4 separate regions of the Homo sapiens genome follow, and all the other regions are linked to region 3. The links come from fine-mapping of genetic effects on gene expression. A gene starts in region 3. Each other region holds a variant in brackets. All regions are shown on one strand. Distances are from middle to middle.

The links.
Region 1: its variant is fine-mapped to the expression of RUFY1 in whole blood (INTERVAL, PIP above 0.99).
Region 2: its variant is fine-mapped to the expression of RUFY1 in transverse colon (GTEx, PIP above 0.99). The same link has a PIP of 0.9 or more in coronary artery.
Region 4: its variant is fine-mapped to the expression of RUFY1 in whole blood (TOPMed, PIP above 0.99).

The regions. Positions count from the first base shown.
Region 1 is chr5:179,622,670-179,627,813 of GRCh38, reverse strand. It overlaps HNRNPH1 (heterogeneous nuclear ribonucleoprotein H1), which reads left to right and starts at 4,143. Exons shown (of 14, transcript NM_001257293.2): 1 at 4,143-4,219; 2 at 4,650-4,777. The coding sequence starts at 4,681. The region is part of intron 4 of LOC128966623 (a long non-coding RNA gene); the gene reads right to left. RefSeq lists enhancers at 2,532-3,316, 3,317-4,102, 3,852-4,146, 4,202-4,371. The variant G/C (reference allele first, on the strand shown) is at 2,011.
Region 2 is chr5:179,511,192-179,516,335 of GRCh38, reverse strand. It overlaps the pseudogene LOC100128622. Among named protein-coding and RNA genes, the nearest start is that of RUFY1, 37 kb to the left of the region's middle. RefSeq lists an enhancer at 1,365-2,212. The variant G/A (reference allele first, on the strand shown) is at 2,744.
Region 3 is chr5:179,548,365-179,553,508 of GRCh38, reverse strand. It overlaps RUFY1 (RUN and FYVE domain containing 1), which reads right to left and starts at 2,955. Exons shown (of 18, transcript NM_025158.5): 1 at 2,630-2,955. The coding sequence starts at 2,939. The region is part of intron 4 of LOC128966623 (a long non-coding RNA gene); the gene reads right to left. It overlaps LOC105377762 (a long non-coding RNA gene), which reads left to right and starts at 3,005. Exons shown (of 4, transcript XR_941315.4): 1 at 3,005-3,565. RefSeq lists a silencer at 2,321-3,030.
Region 4 is chr5:179,605,853-179,610,996 of GRCh38, reverse strand. It overlaps RUFY1 (RUN and FYVE domain containing 1), which reads right to left. Exons shown (of 18, transcript NM_025158.5): 16 at 5,073-5,121; 17 at 3,338-3,415; 18 at 985-1,621. The coding sequence ends at 1,478. The region is part of intron 4 of LOC128966623 (a long non-coding RNA gene); the gene reads right to left. Among named protein-coding and RNA genes, the nearest start is that of RUFY1-AS1, 4.7 kb to the right of the region's middle. RefSeq lists enhancers at 3,120-3,179, 3,247-3,747, 3,748-4,248. The variant G/A (reference allele first, on the strand shown) is at 2,565.

The DNA.
Region 1 (5,144 bases), 74 kb before region 3:
AGTAGCTGGGATTACAGGCGCCCACCACCATGCCCGGCTAATTTTTGTATTTTTGGTAGAGACAGGGTTTCACCATGTTGGCCAACATGTCTGAAACTCCTGACATCAAGTTATCCACCCACCTCAGCCTCCCAAAGTGCTGGGATTACAAGTGTGAGCCATTGCACCTGGCATATCCCAGCAATTTGGGAGATTGAGGCACAAGAATTGCTTGAACCCGGGAGGTGGAGGTTGCAGTGAGCCGAGATCACATACCTGCACTCCAACCTGAGTGACGAAGTGAGACCCTGTCTTAAAAAAAAAAAAGGCATAAATCAGGGCCGAGCATCATGGCTCACATGTAGAATAATCCCAGGGCTTTGAGAGGCCAAGGTGGGAGAATTGCTTGACGCCAGGAATTCAAGACTAGCCTGGGCAACATAGTGAGACCCCCATCACTACAAAAAAAAAAAAAATTAGTCGGGCCTGGTTGAAAGTGCCTTTAGTCCCAGCTACTCAGGAGGCTGAGCTTGGAGGATGGCTTGAGCCCAGGAGTTCAAGGCTGCAGTGAGTTATGATTGTGTCACTGCACGGAACAAGACATTGTCTGTAAAACAAACAAAAAATACCACCACAAAACCACAAAAATAATTAAAAGGTAAGCAAACTGAGAAGAATGTCTGGGGCAACTATCCTAAGGGCTAACAGCCTTAATAAAGAGCTCTGTAAACTGTAAGAAGTATACGAAGACATTAGCCGGGCGCAGTGGCTCACACCTATAATCCCAGCACTTTGGGAGCCCGAGGTGGGCGGATCATGAGGTTAGGAGATCGAGACCATCCTGGCTAACACGGTGAAACCCCGTCTCTAGTAAAAATACAAGAAAATTAGCTGGGCGTGGTGGCGGGCGCCTGTCGTCCCAGCTACTCTACTCGGGAGGCTGAGGCAGGAGAATGGTGTGAACCTGGGAGGCGGAGCTTGCAGTGAGCGGAGATCGCGCCATTGTACTCCAGCCTGGGCGACAGAGCGAGACTCCGTCTCAAAAAAAAAAAAAAAAAGAAGTATACCAAGACATAAAGACCACTGAGGCAAGATGATGAATTTTTTTTTTTTTTTTTAAAGACAGAGTCCTGCTCTGTTGCCCAGGCAGGAGTGCAGTGGTGCAATCTCTGCTCACTGCAACCTCCACCTCCCAGGTTCAAGTGATTCTCCTGCCTCAGCCTCCTGAGTAGCTGGGATTACAGGCACGCGACACCATGCCCGGCTACTTTTTGTATTTTTAGTAGAGACGGGGTTTCACCATGTTGGTCAGGCTGGTCTCTAACTCCTGAACTCTTGATCCACCTGCCTCGGCCTCCCAAAGTGCTGGGATTACAGGCATGAGCCCCACGCGTGGGCTGATGATTAACTTTTTATTTAAAAAAACCTTTGGCCGAGCATGGTGGCTCATGCTTGTAATCTCAGTACTTTGGGAGGCCGAGGCAGGCAGATCACTTGAGGTCAGGAGTTCCAGACCAGCCTGGCCAACATGGCAAAACCCCATCTCAACTAAAACTTAAAAAAAAGTAGCCAGGTGTGGTGGCACACACCTGTAATCCCTCTACTTGGGAGGCTAAGGCATGAGAATTGCTTGAACCTAGGAGGCAGAGGTTGCAGTGAGCCAAGATTGCACCACTGTACTCCAGCCTGGGTGACAGAGTTAGACTGTCTCAAAAACAAAACCAAACAAAAAAACCTTTCATTGCCAGCCATGGTGGCTCACACCTGTAATCCCAGCACTTTCTCTGCGAGGCTGAGGTGGAATGATTCCTTGAGCCCAAGAATTCAAGACCAGCCTGGGCAACAAAATGAGACCCCATTGCTACAAAAAATAAATAAATAAATAAATAAATAAATAAATAATCTGAGCAAGGTGGCACATGCCTGTGGTCCTACCTACTCAGGAGGCTGAGGCAGGAGGATTGTTTGAGCCCAGAAGGTAGAGGCTGTGGTGAGCCATGTTTGCACCACTGCACTCCAGCCTGGGTGACG[G/C]GCTGTGTCTCAAACAAACAAATAAAAAATAAAAATTTAAAAACCTTGTTTTAATATAAGTTGGACAATTTATATATAAGAGAATTGGCTATAAGTGTATGAAATGTATTCTACCTTACTACTATTCTTTTTTTTTTTTTTTTTGAGACGGAGTTTTGCTCTTATTGCCCAGGCTGGAGTGCAATGGCGTGATCTCAGCTGACTGCAACTGCTGCCTCCTGGGTTTAAGTGATTCTCCTGCCTCAGTCTTGCCAAGTGGTTGGGATTACAGGCATGCATCACCATGCCTGGCTAATTTTTTTTTTTTTTTTTTTTTGAGAGGGAGTCTTTGTAGCCCAGGCTGGAGGGCAGTGGTGTGATCTCAGCTCACTGCTTCCTCTGCCTCCTGGGTTCAGGTGATTCTCCTGCCTCAGCCTCCAGAGTAGCTGGGATTACAGGCGTGTGCATGCATAGATAATTTTTGTATCTTTAGTAGAGATGGGGTTTCACCATGTTGGCCAAGCTGGTCTGAAACTCCTGATCTCAAGTGATCTGCCTGCCTCGGCCTCCCAAAATGCTGGTATTACACGAGTGAGCCACCGCACCTGGCCGGACTCTCTTCTTGATTACCTCAGCCAAAGTGCCTTCTGAAATGGTACCACAGGTGTGTGCTTCTAGTTCAGTTTGTAGTAGAGGGCCTGGTATGTACCGTCATTCACCCTGCCTGCTCCATCTGCATCCCCCTCACATCCAGCAAGAGTTTTCCTTTACACAGGGTTTACGGCTCCCCTGCTGATCACCTGCCAAAGCCTTCTCTCGGAGATAACACCCTTGCCAAGGCCTAAGTGGCCTTTGAAGATCAGGCCCTGCTTAGCTCTGGGCTCCTGTCTTTCTTTTGATGTCCTCTCTACTTTTTCTCAAACCTGTCAAAACTGGATTCGGACTCTGTGGCACTGGGGTTGGAAACATGCTTTGTCCGCATCTTCCCAGGGTGGCACTCAGGCTTGCACTAGCTAAGGTAGCTCTGCGGCAGGGTCCAGCACTACCTTATTGTTAATTTGTGTATTGTCTGTGTCCACTAAAGCTGGGGTGAGGAAGGCAGCCAAATCAGACATGGGGAGGCCTGGGAGGCTACGGCATCTTAGGTTTTGGGCAGTGCTGCTAGAAACCACGAACATTAGTCATCTCGCAGCATGTGTGCACATGGGGTGACCCGGGGGCCTCCTCGAATGCAGCGTCTACGCCTGGTGAATGGACGCACTCTTACCAATTCTGCTCTGGGAGATGCAGCGGTAACCTACCGAGCGCAGAGGCCGGCGCGCACCCGTGGAGCCCGCGCTCGCGATCCCTCCTCGTGCCAGGGCCCCAGGGCAGTCAAGGCCTGCCGACCGTTAGGCGGGTCAAGGGGTACACAGGGTGCGAATTCGTTAGGCAAAAGCTGGGTACAGGCGCGAGCCACAGGCACGGAAACCTCGCGCCGACCGGGGCCCTAGGCCCGACGACGGCAGGTAAGGGGAAGTGGAGGCACACAGGGCTGGGACGTGCCCCAGGCACCATACGGGTGGCTTCGGGCGCGGGACGTCCGCAGCCCCGCAGCTCCCAGGACGTTCGACAATCTGCAGCTGACCAGCTTCGGCCGGTTTGGGGATAAAGGGAAGACAGGCGGCGCGGGGAGTGGGAACGCCTGAAGGCCGCGCCCCTCCTTTCAGGTCGGCCAGGAGCGCGCCGGTAAGAGCCTGGGGGCAAGGGGTAGAAAGACGCCCACCTCATCACAACCCAGAGCTCGGGACTCCTATACAGTCCCATAGGGAACAGGCGGCCGCCATTCCCCTCCCCCACGCTGGCGGGTAAGGCTAGAGAACGGTTTCAAGGAAGACGCATGCGCATGAAATAATTATAAACCGCTAGGACTCCGAAGTTCAATATTCGCGGGAAGGCGCAGGCGCAACAAAAAGCCCGGCGGGTTTATGGGTGGGGGTGCTGAGCCCAAAACCCAAGCGTGTAATAATCCGCCGGCGGGAGGTGGGCTGGCTCTTGAAATTACGCATGCGCCAGAGCTCTTTGTGACGCAACGGGGCGGTGCGGGCAGCTGGCTGCGCGTGCGCAGAACTCGCACAAGGGACCTTATTTAGGTTGCGCAGGCGCCCGCTGGCCATTTCGTCTTAGCCACGCAGAAGTCGCGTGTCTAGGTGAGTCGCGGTGGGTCCTCGCTTGCAGTTCAGCGACCACGGTGGGTACCGTTTTTGCGAGGATTGTTTGTCCCCATATCTCTGGGAGGGCCACGGGGACCTTGGCGAGCTGCAGGCTGCCGTCGAGAGCCGCGAGTGGTTCGCTGAATCTCGGCACCGCCGCTGAGGCCTGCAGGCCGCGCCGACTCTATTGTGTGAGAAGTCGGAGGAGGCGGAGCGGAAGCGGCCGCCGCCATTTCCTTTCCTCTACGCTGGCTCTCGGCCCGGGCCCCCACGGTTCGGGGCGCCGACAGCTGTTGCTCAGGACAGCTTTGGGGGTCCGGTCGCCGGACGAGGAGGTGTTGGAGTCGCCGGGGTGGGTGCATCCGCCCGGTTTTTGCTCCGTGGGGGGGCGGTGCGGGCCCGGGCGCGCCTCGGAGGCGAAGGACAGCTTAATTGGCGCTCTCAGTTCTGGTCCTCCCCGCTTTGCAGTTTGTTTCGACGCCGGACCGCGTAAGAGACGATGATGTTGGGCACGGAAGGTGGAGAGGGATTCGTGGTGAAGGTCCGGGGCTTGCCCTGGTCTTGCTCGGCCGATGAAGTGCAGAGGTTTTTTTCTGGTGAGTTAGAACTAGGACGCGGGAGTTCGAGTTCGAGGCCGGGGCGGGCGGGCTGGCGGGCGGCCGGGCTGGGGCGGGGCGGGGCGGGGCGGGCCGGGCCGGGCCGGGCCGGGTGGGACCCGGGGCGCCCCCTGGCGAGGCGCGGGCGACTACACTCACCGCTGTGCTGCTCGCGCCCGGCGGCCCGCTGTTACGCAATGGAAATTTCGAAAGCCCCGCCCGTCCTCCTGGCCCTTGGGGGAGTGCGGCAGGTTTGGCAGACTTTGTTTTCTTTACCTATCTTTGAACACCAGCTTTTCTTTTATGGGTGTCTTTTTTTCTTTTTCTTTTGAGTTGGAGTCTCTGTCACCCAAGCTGGAGTGCAGTG
Region 2 (5,144 bases), 37 kb after region 3:
GGAGGGGTAACTGACATACAAGAGAACAAGCCAGGCATGGTGGCTCACGCCGTAATCCCAGCACTTTGGGAGGCCGAGGTGGGTGAATCACCTGAGGTCAGGAGTTCGAGACCAGCCTGACCAACACAGTGAAACCGCATCTCTACTAAAACTACAAAAAATTAGCCAGGCATGGTGGCGGGCACCTGTAATCCCAGCTACTCTGGAGGCTGAGGCGGGAGAATCACTTGAACCCAGGAGGTGGAGGTTGCAGTGAGCCGAGATCGTGCCACTGCACTCCAGCCTGGGCAACAAGAGCGAAACTCCATCTCAAAAAAAACAAATTTTTTTGATCAATGTTAACACACGTACGCACCCGCAAAACCATGACCAGGAGCATCACGACTCCCAAAGCTTCCTCATGATTCTTTGGAATCCCTCCCTACAGCCCCTCCCACCCCCCCCCATCCCAAGCAGCCACTGATTTGCTTTCTGTCACAGTCAGTAGATTTGCAATTTCCTTAATACCATGTCTGAGCCCAGTAGGCAAATACTTTCTTTTTATTGGGTGGACATTTCGTGGCATGTTCAAGCTTTTGAATTCAGAGAGTGAGAGGATGAGAAAGAAAAGGCTGGTCTGGGTCACTCCTGGGAGGCCTGGCCCTAAGCACCGTGTGGCTCATGTGCCCTGGAGCCCCTGTGCACCGGTCATCCCTGACTGCCCTGCCGCAAGCTTTATAGCTCCCCCATCACCTTTCCCGGACCAGCTGGTACAATCTCAAACTTTTCACCAATTCTGACATCTAAACAACTAACGCCAGAGACAGGCTCTGTGGGACCAGCAGCTGCGACCTCACCTCCGGTCACTGGAACACTGAGCTGTTAAATGAAAGGTGCGTCCTTCTTTCTCCCTTTCCAGGGAGAATGCTCTGCTCTTCTTCCTGCTGGATCCCTCCTCTACCTGCTTCTCTCCCACCTCCTGCAGCCCCCGGAGCCCCGTGGCGATGCAGGCAGACTCATCTGTACCCTCATTCTGTTTGCAGAACCACATCTCTGGGCTGGCTCTGCCCAAGGACACCACACCTTCTCCATTCCTCTTGCCCTTTCCCCGTGGGGTGCAGGTGGGGCTGGGCCCACGATGGCATCAGGCCCACTCTCTCTAATGCAGGAAGGGATCAGATGCCGGGAGCCATGGAGATTGTCCTCATCCCGATCATCTCCCAGCTTAGCAAATGATGATGAAGACAGTTTTCCCACAAGATAGGCATAGCCTCTGGGACAGTGCCTCGTTTATTTTCTAGCACAAAATAGACGTTAGAACAGTGGGGCTTTGTGGGCATATGGAGATTTTTAAGGCTCCTTAGGAGGCAGGTAAAAATTTCTTCAATAAGACAAAACACTATCCCCAAAGAAAATGATTGATAAATGTGGGGAAAAGCAAGAGAGATCAGATTGTTACTGTGTCTGTGTAGAAAGAAGTAGACATGGGAGACTCCATTTTGTTCTGTACTAAGAAAAATTCTTCTGCCTTGGGATGCTGTTAATCTATAACCTTACCCCCAATCCCGTGCTCTCTGAAACGTGTGCTGTGTCAACTCAGAGTTAAATGGATTAAGGGCGGTGCAAGATGTGCTTTGTTAAACAGATGCTTGAAGGCAGCATGCTCCTTAAGAGTCATCACCACTCCCTAATCTCAAGTACCCAGGGACACAAACACTGCGGAAGCCCGCAGGGACCTCTGCCTAGGAAAGCCAGGTATTGTCCAAGGTTTCTCCCCATGTGATAGTCTGAAATATGGCCTCGTGGGAAGGGAAAGACCTGACCGTCCCCCAGCCCGACACCCGTAAAGGGTCTGTGCTGAGGAGGATTAGTATAAGAGGAAGGCATGCCTCTTGCAGTTGAGACAAGAGGAAGGCATCTGTCTCCTGCCTGTCCCTGGGCAATGGAATGTCTCGGTATAAAACCCGATTGTATGCTCCATCTACTGAGATAGGGAAAAACCGCCTTAGGGCTGGAGGTGGGACCTGCGGGCAGCAATACTGCTTTGTAAAGCATTGAGATGTTTATGTGTATGCATATCTAAAAGCACAGCACTTAATCCTTTACATTGTCTATGATGCAAAGACCTTTGTTCATGTGTTTGTCTGCTGACCCTCTCCCCACAATTGTCTTGTGACCCTGACACATCCCCCTCTTCGAGAAACACCCACAAATGATGAATAAATGCTAAGGGAACTCAGAGGCTGGCGGGATCCTCCATATGCTGAACGCTGGTTCCCCGGGTCCCCTTATTTCTTTCTCTATACTTTGTCTCTGTGTCTTTTTCTTTTCCAAATCTCTCGTCCCACCTTACGTGAAACACCCACAGGTGTGTAGGGGCAACCCACCCCTACAGATACATTGGATGATAGTAAAATTAAGAATTTTTTCATCAATAAGAGAGTAAAAAGATGGGGCCGGGTGTGGTGGCTCACGCTGTATCCCAGCACTTTGGGAGGCCAAGGCGGGAGGATCACTTGAGGTCAGGAGTTAGAGAACAGCCTGAGCAGCTTAGCAAGACCTCGTCTCTACGAAAAATGAAAAATTGGCTGGGCGTGGTGGTGCATGCCTGTGGTCCCAGATACTTGGGAGGCTGAGGCAGGAGGAACACTTGAGCCTGGGAGGCTGAGGCTGCAGTGAGCCATGATTGTGCCACTGCACTGCAGCCTGGGTGACAGAGTGAGACTCTGTCTCTTAAAAAAAGAGGTGGGGAATGGAGGAGGGT[G/A]AAAAGATAAATCACATGTAGAGTATAAAGAGAATTCCTGTAAGTTAATAAGAAAAATGCATGCGGGACTTAATACCTAGGTGACGGGTGGATAAGTGCAGCAAACCACCATGGCACATGTTTACCTGTGTAACAAACCTGCACGTTCTGTACATGTATCCCAGTACTTAAATAAAGTTTTTTAAAAAATTAAGAAAAAAGCTGGCAGACCAATAGGACAATGGGTGAAAGAAATGAAGAGGGACAAAAAAGGGAAGGAAGAAAGGGAGGGAGGGGGGAGGGAGGAGGGGGGAAGGGAGAGGAAAGAGCAAATGAACATCCAAATGGCCAAAAAGCATTTAAAACATGCTCAGCCTCATAAGCCATCAAATTTAAACCACAGTGAGAAACCAATATTACACCTACCAGAATTGCTAAAATTAAAAACACTGTTGATACCAAGTTTGGGCAAGAATGTGGAGTAACTGAAACTTCATATACTATTGGGAATGTAAAATAGCACAACTACTTTGGAAAACCCTTGGGTAATACCTACTAAAGGAGACCACACATGTGATCCCCACATTCCACTCTTACGCATAGACCCAAAAGAACTGTGCACTGTGCACGTGTTCACCAAATGACGTGCGACGTGCACTAGGATGTTTATACCAGCACCCTTCACAATAGCCCCAAATTCCAACAGGAGAGTGGATAAGTACCTCTCAGTATATTTATAGAGTAAAATTCTTACAGCACTGAAAATGGATTCACAGCCACCATGCACAGTTGGTGAATCTCAGCAACATACTGTTGAGCAGAAGCAGCCAGACACAAATGAATGCGTACGGCACGATTCTGTTTCTGCGAAGCCCTAAAACAGGCCAAAGAAACATCTGGTGAGAAGTCAGGATAGCGATTATCTTAGTGCTCTGGGGGAGGGTGGCTCTGGTAATATTCTATTTCTTGATCTGAGGGCTGGTGTCCCAGACGTATTCACTCTACGATAATTTACCAAGCTGCCCTCTGGGGATTGGTGGCTTCTCTGTATGAATATTACACTCAATTAAAAAAACACACTCAATAACAAAAACCTAACAATCAAATTCAGAAATGAGCAAGGCTGGGCGCGGTGGCTCACGCCTGTAATCCTCGCACTTTGAGAGGCCGAGGCGGGCAGATCACCTGAAGTCAGGAGTTCGAGACCAGCCTGGCCAACATGGTGAAACCCGTCTCTACTAAAACTACAAAAATTAGCCGGGTGTGGTGGCACATGCCTGTAATCTCAGCTATTTGGGAGGCTGAAGCAGGAGACTCGCTTAAACCTAGGAGGTGGAAGTTTCAGTGAGCCGAGATCACGCCACTGCACTCCAGCCTGGGTGACAGAGTGAGACTCTGTCTTAAAAAAAAAAAAAAAAAAAAAAAAAAAGGCTGGGCGCGGTGGCTCACACCTGTAATCCCAGCACTTTGGGAGGCCAAGGCGGGCGGATCACAAGGGCAAGAGATGGAAACCATCCTGGCTAACACGGTGAAACCCCTTTTCTACTAAAAATACAAAAAATTAGCCAGGCGTGGTGGCGGGCGCCTGTAGTACGAGCTACTCAAGAGGCTGAGGCAGGAGAATGGTGTGAACCCGGGACGCGGAGCTTGCAGTGAGCCAAGATCGCGCCACTGCACTCCAGCCTGGGTGACAGAGCGAGACTCCCTCTCAAAAAAAAAAAAAAAAAAAAAAAAGAGCAAAGGACTCGAATGGACATTTCTCCATACTCAGCATCACTAATCATTAGGGAGATGGAAATGACAACGAGATTCCTTTTCACTCCTACTACATTGACTAGTATCAAAGAAAACCCAGAATATAACGAATGTTGGTAAGGATGTGGAGAGACTGGAACCCTTGTGCACTGCTGGTGGGAATGTAAAATAGTGCCGCCCCTCTAGAAAACAGTAAGGCAGTTCCTCGGAAATTACACCTAGGGACGCTCCAGCAATTCCACTTCTGGGTATATATCCCCCAAAAATTGAAAGCAAGGAAATAAAGAGACACTTGCCCATCCCTGTCGATAGCTGTGTTATTCACAATAGATAAAAGGTGGGAGCAACTCAGCCGGGTGCGGTGGCTCACGCCTGTAATCTCAGCACTTTGGGAGGCTGAGGCAGGCGGATCATGAGGTCAGGAGTTCGAGACCAGTCTGACCTACATGGTGAAACTCCATCTCTACTAAAAATACAAAAAAAAATGGCCAGGCGCGGTGGCTTATGCCTGTAATCCCAACACTTTGGGGGGCCGAGGCAGGCAGATCACCTGAGGTCAGGAGTTTGAAACCAGCCTGGCCAGCACGGTGAAACCCTGTCTCTACTAAAAATACAAAAAAATTAGCTGGGCGTGGTGGTGGGAGCCTGTAGTCCAAGCTACTCAGGA
Region 3 (5,144 bases):
CCCGGCCTAGTTTTTTAAATCCATATGGGATATATATATAGACATTTTGCAGTTGGTGAAGTTACTTCTCTTTAATACTCTCTTTATAAAATAGGGATAATAATGGTACTCATCACCCTGTGCCATCTACATGATTTACAAGGCCCAGTGCAAAATTCCCGGCCTGGAGCAGAGCACAGAAGTCAGACTCCCCCTTACTACAGCCCTAATGGATTGCAACTTCCCTGCAGGGATGGGACAGGTGAGAGGCCCCTGCCCACTTGCCTGCCTAATGTGCTGTGGTACCAGCCACCCTGCCCTGAGATTCGGAGGGTGCAATCCCAACGCTGCCTGGGCAAGAGTGGGATCAGGGAGGGTAGGGAGAAGCCCCAGGGCAGCTCGAGTGGGCCAGGGCAACTGAGAACCTGTCCCATTGGACTTCACTTAAAAAACACAAATTCAAAGATAAAATTAAGAATTTCAAGCATGGGATACTTCTGAGTGCCTGGCCCTTTCCACCAGAGTGATCAAAGCCTGCATTGACTGTCCACCCATGAAGCTAGTCCTGCTATCACATAGGGTTGTTGTGAGGAATGAATGAATACTTGTACAGGTTTAAGACTAATGCCTGGCACCTTTGAAGGACAATATAAGTGTTGGCTATTGTTTCTATCACTTCCATAGATGGAACACAGGTATTTTTCAAATATGCATTTGTTCAGCAAACACTTATTATTCTGTGCCAGGTACTGACACATTTCATTTTATCTTTTTAATTTTTTCCTTGATTCTGCATTAAAGGAAAGAAATTCTAGCAGGGAAGAACTTTTATTATTTGCTTACTCCTGCCACGAAATATCTAAGAGGCCTCCAGGAGACGCCATGCCTTGACTTTCAGTACTGACTGTCAATGAGTATGCAACTCAGCATCCACTGATGTGTGGAAAAGTCTCGGGAAAAGGTGTCAAGCTAGAGGGCAGTAGATTCCCGGCCTGCCCAGGCTCTCATCATCCTCTAATGCTATTTTCCACTGCCAGGATCTCAAAACGAGTCAGCCTTTCAACTTTACTCAGTAATTATTCTTGACCACTGAAAATCTCACAATTCACTACCTGGGGTCAGTGCATCTACAGCAAAGGTACCAGTGGATGGGGAGGAATCAGGAAGCCTCGAGTGTGTGCTATGATGCTCCTTGGAAGGCACCACAACCTTTCCTCAGCTCTGTCCCAGCATTTTCTATGAAGTTGGCAATGTTCTATTATGTGCTATCTCATACAGTAGCCACTGGCCACACACAGGCTACTGAGCATTTAAAATGTGGCCGCTGTAATCGAGGAACAAGTTTTTTTTTTTTTTTTTTTTTTTGAGACAGAGTCTCGCTCTGTCACCCAGGCTGGAGTGCAGTGGCGCGATCTCGGCTCACTGCAACCTCTGCCTCCCAGGTTCAAGCGATTCTCCTGCCTCAGCCTCCTGAGTAGCTGGGACTACAGGTGCATGCCAACACACCCAGCTAATTTTTTGTATTTTTAGTAGAGACGGGGTTTCACCATGTTGGCCAGGATGGTCTCGATCTCTTGACCTCGTGATCCACCCGCTTCGGCCTCCCAAAGTGCTGGGATTACAGGCGTGAGCCACCGCTCCCGGCCGAGGAACTCAATTTTTAATTCAATTTAAAAGTACTGAATTTCAATTGATTCAGTTAGAAATTGAGGAATCCGGCCGGGCGCGGTGGCTCAAGCCTGTAGTCCCAGTACTTTACGAGGCCGAGGCAGGTGTATCACAAGGTCAGGAGTTCAAGACCAGCCTGGCCAAGATGGTGAAACCCCGTTTCTACTAAAAATATGGGAGGGGGGTGGGGGCGGGGAACTTAGCCGAGCGTGGTGGTGGGCACCTGTAATCCCAGCTACTCGGGAGGCTGAGGCGGGAGGGAGGATCGCTTGAACCCGGGAGGCAGAGGGTGCAGTGAGCCGAGATCGCACCACTGCACTCCAGCCTGGGCGACAGAGCAAGACCCGGTCTCAAAAAAATAAAAATAAATAAAAACAAAAACACACACACAAAAACATATGCGTGCTGTTGTATTGGATAGCACAGCTCTGGATGTCTGGCGTTAGAGGGCTAAGTTACTTAACTCTTACTATCACTGATATGCTGGCACTCTGTTCATTACAAGGGCTGAAAAGGTCTTTAAGAGATCATCGGGTGACTTTAAAATCCCCATCTCACAGGCAGAGGTGAGCGGAGGCGCCGCTGGTCCGCTGCGCGCAGGGCCCACGCCCTCCCAACACCCGCCGGCGCTCCACTCCCGCACTGAACGGCTGAAAAGCAGAACAGTGCTGGCTCCGTTTCGTGTGTGGAGTTACTACAGAGTTCCGAAGCCCGGACGCGCACACGTCCTTCACCTAGTTAGTGGGAGAGCATAGAGGCGCGGGTGCGGGAGCGCGCTCAGGCACGCGGGGCTGCGGGGGGCGGTCTCGGCTGGGCCGCCGGAGTAAAGACCCAGGCGCAGCCAGGCGCCGCCCGCCCGCCAACAGCTCGCGTAACCTCCCGGAACGGCCAGTGCCCTCCCAGCCCGGCCCCCACCGCGCCCGCGCCGGCGGCCAGCGGGGACACGCGAGTCCGCCGCGGGACAGACCCGGCCCGAGCCTACCTGCGCGCGCCGTGCCGTCCCCGCTGTCCCCGCCGCCCAGCCCCGCGGCCGCGCGCAGCGCGCTCCCGCAGCTCGCCGACAGGTTCCCGGTGGCCCTGCGTGCCAGGGTCAGGATGGGCGCCGACCAGCCCTCGGCCGCCCGCGGCCTCGTTGCGCTCCGCAGGTCGCCTGGGCCGGGCAGCTGGCTTCGGTCCACGATCTCAAACTCTTCTCCCGGCTCAAGCGCTGACCCGGGCCCCGGCCCCGGCTCCAGCTCCGGCTCCAGCTCCCGCCCCCGCCCAGCAGCGCAGCCGCCTTCCCGGTCGGCCATCTTGGCCGTGTCATGTGACCCAGCGGGCGGGCGGGCGCGGGGTGGGGGCGGGCGGGCATCGCCTTTGCCTTAGGTGGGGGAGATTTTTCTCCCTCTTCACCGCCTCGCCTTCCCTCTGTTTCGAAAGGTTCGGGAAAGTCCAAGTCATAACATAAAAAGTGTGCGTATTCCCGGCCGCCGGCAGGACCTGTTCGCGGGGAAGTTCCTCTTGAACTTTCTCCGAGGACAGTTGTGCACCCTGCCCGGCGCTTCACGGGGTTCCCTGGCCGTCGTTGTCTTTGTGACACCATTTCCTCTTTTAAATTTTCATTTCATGGTCTATATTTTCCACTTCGTCATTTTTCTGTAGCACTCATTAGAACAAGCCCCGAAAGGGCGACTAAGGAAACGCACAGGCGAGGCAGGAAAGCAGGAATTTTTTTTTTTTTTTAATCTAATGACTATGACGGCTTGGCAAGAAAGAGTGCACGATAGTGGACTGGAAATCAGAGGTGGCTTCTCCTATTGATTAGTTAAGTGGGATAACAAAAACCGACCTCATTATTAAATAAGATTTGCAGTAAGGACCACATGGCAGATGTTAGCGATTGTGACTACTATCTCTGGTATCCAACTGTGTGGCCTGGGTAAGTCACTATACACTCAGTCTGTTTCTTCACTTGGAAAAGAAAGGAATTTGAGTAAGTACAAAGGAAAATTTTGGCCGGGCGCGGTGGCTCACGCCTGTAATCCCAGCACTTCGGAAGGCCCAGGCGGGCCTTTAGTAGGACGAAACCCCGTCTCTACTAAAATACCAAAACAACAACAACAACAACAACAAAAAACCAGCCAGATGTCGTGGCGGGACAGCTCTACTCCTAGCTCCTTGGGGGGCTGAGAGTGGGAGGATCGCTTGAGCCCGGGAGGTCGATCCCACAGTGAGCGGAGATCATGGCCACTGCACTCCAGGCTGGGCGACAAAGTGAGACCCTGTCTCAGAAAAAACACTAAAATTTACTAGCACTTAACACTTTGCAAAGTGAGGCAACATGAGCCACACCAAACCAGCAGAGCTGTTTTGATTCCCAGAATGTTTACAAATCTTAAAACTTGTTGCCAATATTTAGAAATCAAAAGATTTCACATAAGAATCTGGATTTTAGCTTTCTCTGGAATCACTGGAATATTTGGTAACTCATGGCATATTCCCAGATGGCAACAAACTGTTGGGAATAAACTGTGCTGCCCCTTTAGACGCCCAGCTGCTCCCTGGACCTGTCTTGGTCCAGCCCACTTCACTAGGTTGCATGATATGTCTGGTCCCTGAAAGGCCAGTTCTCAGTGAAGGGATACCACTTCATCTAGGAGTGTTTTGGGAATTTGTGGAGTTGGTGTTTGAGTTGTGTAATGACTGAGGGCATACTACCAGTCTTTTTTGTTTGTTTGTTTTCGTACGGAGTCTCGCTCAGTCGCCCAGGCTGGAGTGCAGTGGCGCGATCTCGGTTCACTGCAAGCTCCACCTCCCGGGTTCACGCCATTCTCCTGCCTCAGCCTCCCGAGTAGCTGGGACTACAGGTGCCCGCCACCACGCCCGGCTAATTTTTTTTTTTTTTTGTATTTTTAGTAGAAACGGGGTTTCACCGTGTTAGCCAGGATGGTCTTGATCTCCTGACCTCGTGATCCGCCAGCCTCGGCCTCCCAAAGTGCTGGGATTAGAGGCGTGAGCCACCACGCCCGGCCTGGTCTTGTTTGTTTGTTTGTTTTTGAGGCCAAGTCCTGCTCTGTCACCAAGCTGGAGTGCAGTGGCGCAATCTCGGCTCACTGTAACCTCTGCCTACCGGGTTCAAGCGATTTTCCTGCCTCAGCCTCCCAAGTAGCTGGGACTGCAGGGGCGTGGCGCCACACTTGGCTAATTTTTGTACTTTTAGTAGAGACGGGGTTTCACCATGTTCGCCAGGATAGTCTCGATCTCTCGACCTCGTGATTCCCCCGCCTCGGCCTCTCAAAGTGTTGAGATTACAGGCGTGAGCCACTGAGCCCGGCCCTACTAGTCTTTACTGGATGCATAGACAGGGATGAAGATAGTCTAGAATAACAGCATTGTCCCGAATCCTTCATGACTTTCCAATGCTACTGGACATTTATGTAGGTGAAAAGTTTGTTTATAATGATCAGGGCGTGGAACCGAATTCCATTTTGTATAAAAACATTAACTCTTTTTTGGGG
Region 4 (5,144 bases), 57 kb before region 3:
AGGCTGCCCAGCAAGTTAGGGGTCCAAACTGGGTGTATTGAAAAGGCACAGATGTCATATATGCCAGTTAGGGGTAGTGAGTGATAGGCAGTTTTTTCTGAAAGTTTGGCCCTGTATGAGACGGCAGCTGTTACGGTGAGGGGTGAGGAAAGGGGAGGGCTGCCAATGTGCTTGCCTAATAGGGTTGGAACCCTGCTAGGACATGGCTTTGGAGCAGGGCGGACCTCGTCTTGAAGTCTGGCCGCACAGTCCTAAGCGGTATAGGATGGAGGGGGAATCCTTGAGTCTTGCCCAAGCTCCCACCTTTTCCATCTTCAGAGCGGTTTGAGGGGAGGGAGCGGCAGAGGAGGAATTCAGTTGAGGGTGCCATGCAAGCATCTACCAGGGCTGACCAGGTCGTGGGGGAGCCTGCTTCGGAGGAAGAGCCCAAAGGAGGAGTGGAATCCTGAGGCCTGGATTTGGCGAGGGTAGGAAGCCCGTGGGAAGGGAGGGTAGGGTCGCGGACAAGGTATGTGTATAGAAGGTGGAGAAGGATGAGGCCTGGAAGACTTGACTGTTGGCTGTCTGGACTTGATAATGCTGTTGTCTCTACCGGAAGGGAGCCCCGGGCCATTGGATCTTTGGGGGTGGGGGCCTCCGAGGGAGGGACTGGAAGCCAGTCGTAGCGCTGCATTTGAAATGTGAAAAATGGCTGCCTGGCACGTGCCTTTTCACAGGTGTCTCCATCTGTAACCTATCAAACTCCCAACTATGTACGTGAACGACTCTTGCACTTTGGTGACAGGCTTGGGGTCACCTCCTCTGCCTGTTGACGGCAGGCTGACCCTGCAAACTGCCCTTGGCTCACCAGGCTGCCCTGCAGGCTCTGGGGCAGCACCAGCAGCCTCTCACTCACACGGGGCTCGGGCACGAGGGGCGCTCTGAGGCCTCCTCCGGTGCGGTGGGCTCTTTGGAAGTTGACACAAGCTTCTGCACGCACCAGAGTGAAAAATAAATGATTTTATTGCAGGGCCAATGATAGGTAGTCACAAGGGCATGAAATGGCAGATCTCTTGTCTGAAGCAGAGAAGGCACACTGGCAGACTCCATGTGTGTCAAACGCTGTGCATGAATCAGGTTTTTAGAAGGAAGGTAGGAGAGGAAAACTACTCACTAGCAGAACTGAACTGCTGTAAAATAGGTTAAATTCTTTGAAAAGTGAAAAATGATAGTAGCAAAATCATGAAGTTGTATCTGAACCAGAGCCGTGATGTAACCAAGTAAGATGGAAGTTTCCATCCAGAGGAGTTAATTCCGAACAAGTCACAGAAAGGTGAGAGCTGCCGGTTCCGGCACGCTGTCTTCTGGAGTGCCAGTGACCGGGCAAGAAATTTGATTCTTTCCTTTGATACTCTTGGGAAAGAACACATTTCCCAAGCCCCTGGAGACCCACAGGGTTTGGCACTGTCCGTGAGGCTGTGCTCCTGAGGACGGACGTTCAGGAGGCCGTGGAGGAGCAGCGCTGCAGGAGCAGGGTGTGGCAGCTGTCGCACACTCGCACCGGCTTGGGGTAGGAGGGCAGGGCCAGCTCGTTGCTGGAGCAGGTGTTGCAGAAGATGTGGCCACAGTTCCGGCAGTGGTGCTACAGGACGGGAAGAAGGCGGTCACAGGACACCCGGGGAAAAGCCATCCGCACACCCTCCCTGCTTCCTGACCCAGAAGCGCATCATTTGCTGGGAATGGGTTCTTATGTTTCTGTGGGGTGGTGAGGGGCTGTGTGCAAACAAGGGTCTTTTTTTTTTTTTTTTTTTGAGATAGAGTCTTGCTCAGTCGCCCGGGCTGCAGTGCAGTGGCGCGATCTCAGCTCACTGCAAGCTCTGCCTCCCAGGTTCACGCCATTCTCCGGCAGTAGCTGGGTCTACAGGTGCCCGCCACTATACCTGGCTAATTTTTTGTATTTTTAGTAGAGACGGGGTTTCACCATGTTAGCCAGGATGGTCTCGATCTCCTGACCTCGTGATCTGCCTCCGCCTTGGCCTCCCAAAGTGTTGGGATTACAGGCGTGAAACACCGCGCCCGGCTTTTTTTTTTTTTTTTGAGTCTCTGTCGCCCAGGCTGGGGTGCAGTGGCGCAATCTCGGCTCACTGCAACCTCTGCCACCTGGGTTCAAGCGATTCTCCTGCCTCAGCCTCCCAAGTAGCTGGGATTACAAGTGCCTGCCACCGTGCCCGGTTAGTTTTTGTATTTTTTTAGTAGAGATGATGGGGTTTCACCATCTTGGCCAGACTGGTCTTGAACTTCTGACCTCGTGATCCACCCACCTCAGCCTCCCAAAGTGCTAGGATTACAGTCATGAGCCACCGTGCCCGGCCTAAGGGTGTTTTTAAGACAAAAAGTTTACTTTTGCTGTACTTCATCACTAAGCCAGTGAGCTGCTAGTCCATGTTACAGGAAGAGTCTGGTTCGTTCTCTTTGCTGCATTCCAAGGGGGTGGAGTAGATCCCTTTCTAAACAGGTTCCCTGGGTGCCTGATAAGACATCAAGATGAGCACCTGTGCAGCCTCTGCTTCTGACTCCACAGATGG[G/A]GACAGCCAGGCCTTGTAGACACATGTGATCTCAAAGGCAGCCTCAGGACGTGGTTTCTAGCTCTGAGCTTACTGCAAGGCACTGCCTGAAACTCGGGTTGGGGAGCGGGTGGGGTAGCTGTGGCTTCCTCTCTTCCACAGAGCTAGGCTGTTGATGGGAACAGACAGAACATGGCTGTGGCAGAAAGGTGGGTGGCGCTGGCAGTGTTTCCTTTAGCTCCCAGTTTTGCTTATACCCAACTCTTCCCCTACCCAGCTGGTCTTGGTGAGACTGTTAATAAGGCCCAGTCAACCCTAGACCCAAGGGTGAGCCTAGGACCTTGTTTCCAGAACCTAAAGGGCAGGGGCAAGCACGCTGCCTAGATCACTAGTGATTTTTGGTGACCTGCTGCCCTGTAGGTTCCCCATAGATTGTTTTTGCCTAAGTTGGGCCAGATTTTGTTCCTGCCGCATACAGAGAATTTTCAATGACACTCCCCTAGAGCAGCTCTGCACACAAGGAGCCCCATCTCCCCAAAAATCATTGTCAATCACTGAAAGGATGTGCTGGAGACCAGGGGCCTATGACTGGCCAAGGCCTCCCAGAAAGAGGGTGCCAGGATGGAAAGCCATCTGCACAGGCAAACAGGAGAGGCGGGGCTGCCCATCTGCCACAGTCAGCACAGTCACCGGGCAGTGAGCCTGCTCTGATATGGGCTTCTGGAACCAGAGAAAGGGGAATCCAGCGGGCAACGACTCAGGGCACTGGGAGGGTGGGTGGAGCCCCCACGTACCTTTCTCCGGGAAATGGAGAACTCCTTCTCACACTGCCTACAGTGTGTCGCTTCGTCATCTTTCAGCCAGGCGTGGCCCTGAAGAGGAAAGGACATTCTAGAATCCACTTTCTGTCTAAGCCCCTGATGAGTGGGTAGCTGCGTTCTGGCCACATCCATTGTCCCTCATAGCACCTGTTTCCTAGTGAGGCACTGTTTCTCCATCAGATGGGGCCTCACAGGACTGTCATCAAGGGGCTCTTTCCCCGTCTGGCCGCAGCCGGGATTTCTGCATCCTAGCTCCGTGCTCCACCTCTTGGCCTCTGCAGGCTGCCCTGGGGCCTCCAGGCGGTCTCCAGCATCTGCTCACTCAGGCACACTCCCACTTTCAATCAGTTCCCTTTGGCTGAAGTAAGCAGAGCGAGCTTCTGGTGCCTGCAACCCTAGACCCTGCCTGAGACACTGGCCGAAGTGCTAGCTGAACTGGCAGGCGCGGAAGAAGGGCCAAATCTGAGTGAGACTAAGACACTTGTTGACGCTGATCCTTGTGGAGAGACAGAAGGTGATGGACAGCGGGCACTGCGTCCCACAGGCCTGAGGAAGCCCTTCTCCATGCGGGCCAAAGCCCTGATTCTTGACCAGCCCTGGGGAGCACATGGACTCCATTCCACAGGGGAGGCGGCTGAGGCTTTGAAAGGTGGCCCCTCAGAGGGCTTTCTCAGGGCGAAGCAGCACCTGTGATTTATTTGGGCTTAGGGACTGGGGTGTTCCAGAGAAGTCAAAGGCATGAGGTACTTTTCTGGCCTGTTAACATCTGCTGGACAAGATTTTCTTGCTGACAAATAGATCCTCACAGACTGAGCTAGAGCCATATACCCTTGGGGCTGCCAGTGTGTGCCCAGGACATTCATCCTGACATCAAAGAGCTCTGGCGGCTCTAGAGTCCTGTTTTATGATTTCTATCCTCTGATGCTGTGAAACTGATATTACCTAGAAGTCCCGGCTGCTGTTAGTTGCTGCCCCTGACCTGGCACTTGGAAGTTAGATGCCCAGAGACATCAGGGTCCCTGCTCTGCACCACGTGGAACAGTGTGCAAAGGGACTGCTTTTGCATTGCTGCCACGGCACAGCTGAGGCCGAAGCGGGGTGCTCCTGCAGGCAAGGCTGTCTTGAAGGCCAGGCTGCCGTGCCCCCGAATGTCTGCCTCCTCTCCCACACTCTCCGCCCTGCAGCTCAGCCTGGCACCCGCACCCACACCGGGCCACCTGCAAACTCCTGCTTTTCGGTGGAATGTGTCATTCTGCCCTCCCCACCAGGGTGCGGAAACCTGGCCCAACTCAGGGCTTGGCTTGAGTGGTCCCTAGCAATGGCACAGGGCACTGCAGTGGGGCTGGCTGGCCTCTGGCCCCTCACTTCAACAGAAGGGCCTGTTTTCCACTGTTTAAAGATATCCGCGGGTCCCTCCTCTCCGCCACCTGCTTCCCCCTTAGGGAATGCCCATCAGGCCTATTTTGAAAGCACAGCTGATGGTGGAGGAACTGGAGTCGGAAGACCTAGGCTCAGCTTCGGCCACCTGTCAGCATCGCCCTCAGCCGAGGGACACGTTTCTGAGCAGCGTTTGGCTTCTCTGTCAATACGTCATCACCACTGCCTCAACCACACGCTCTCACCTGACTGTTGGGATACTTAAACGTACGAGCACACGGGCAGTCAGCACAAGCTGACAGCAAAGAAGTGGTTCTTAGCAAGGCAGTACCTTCAGTGCCTGGTTCACTTCTTTTATATCTTCCATCTTCAGCTTGGACCTAAGGAAAAAAAAAAGGCCATT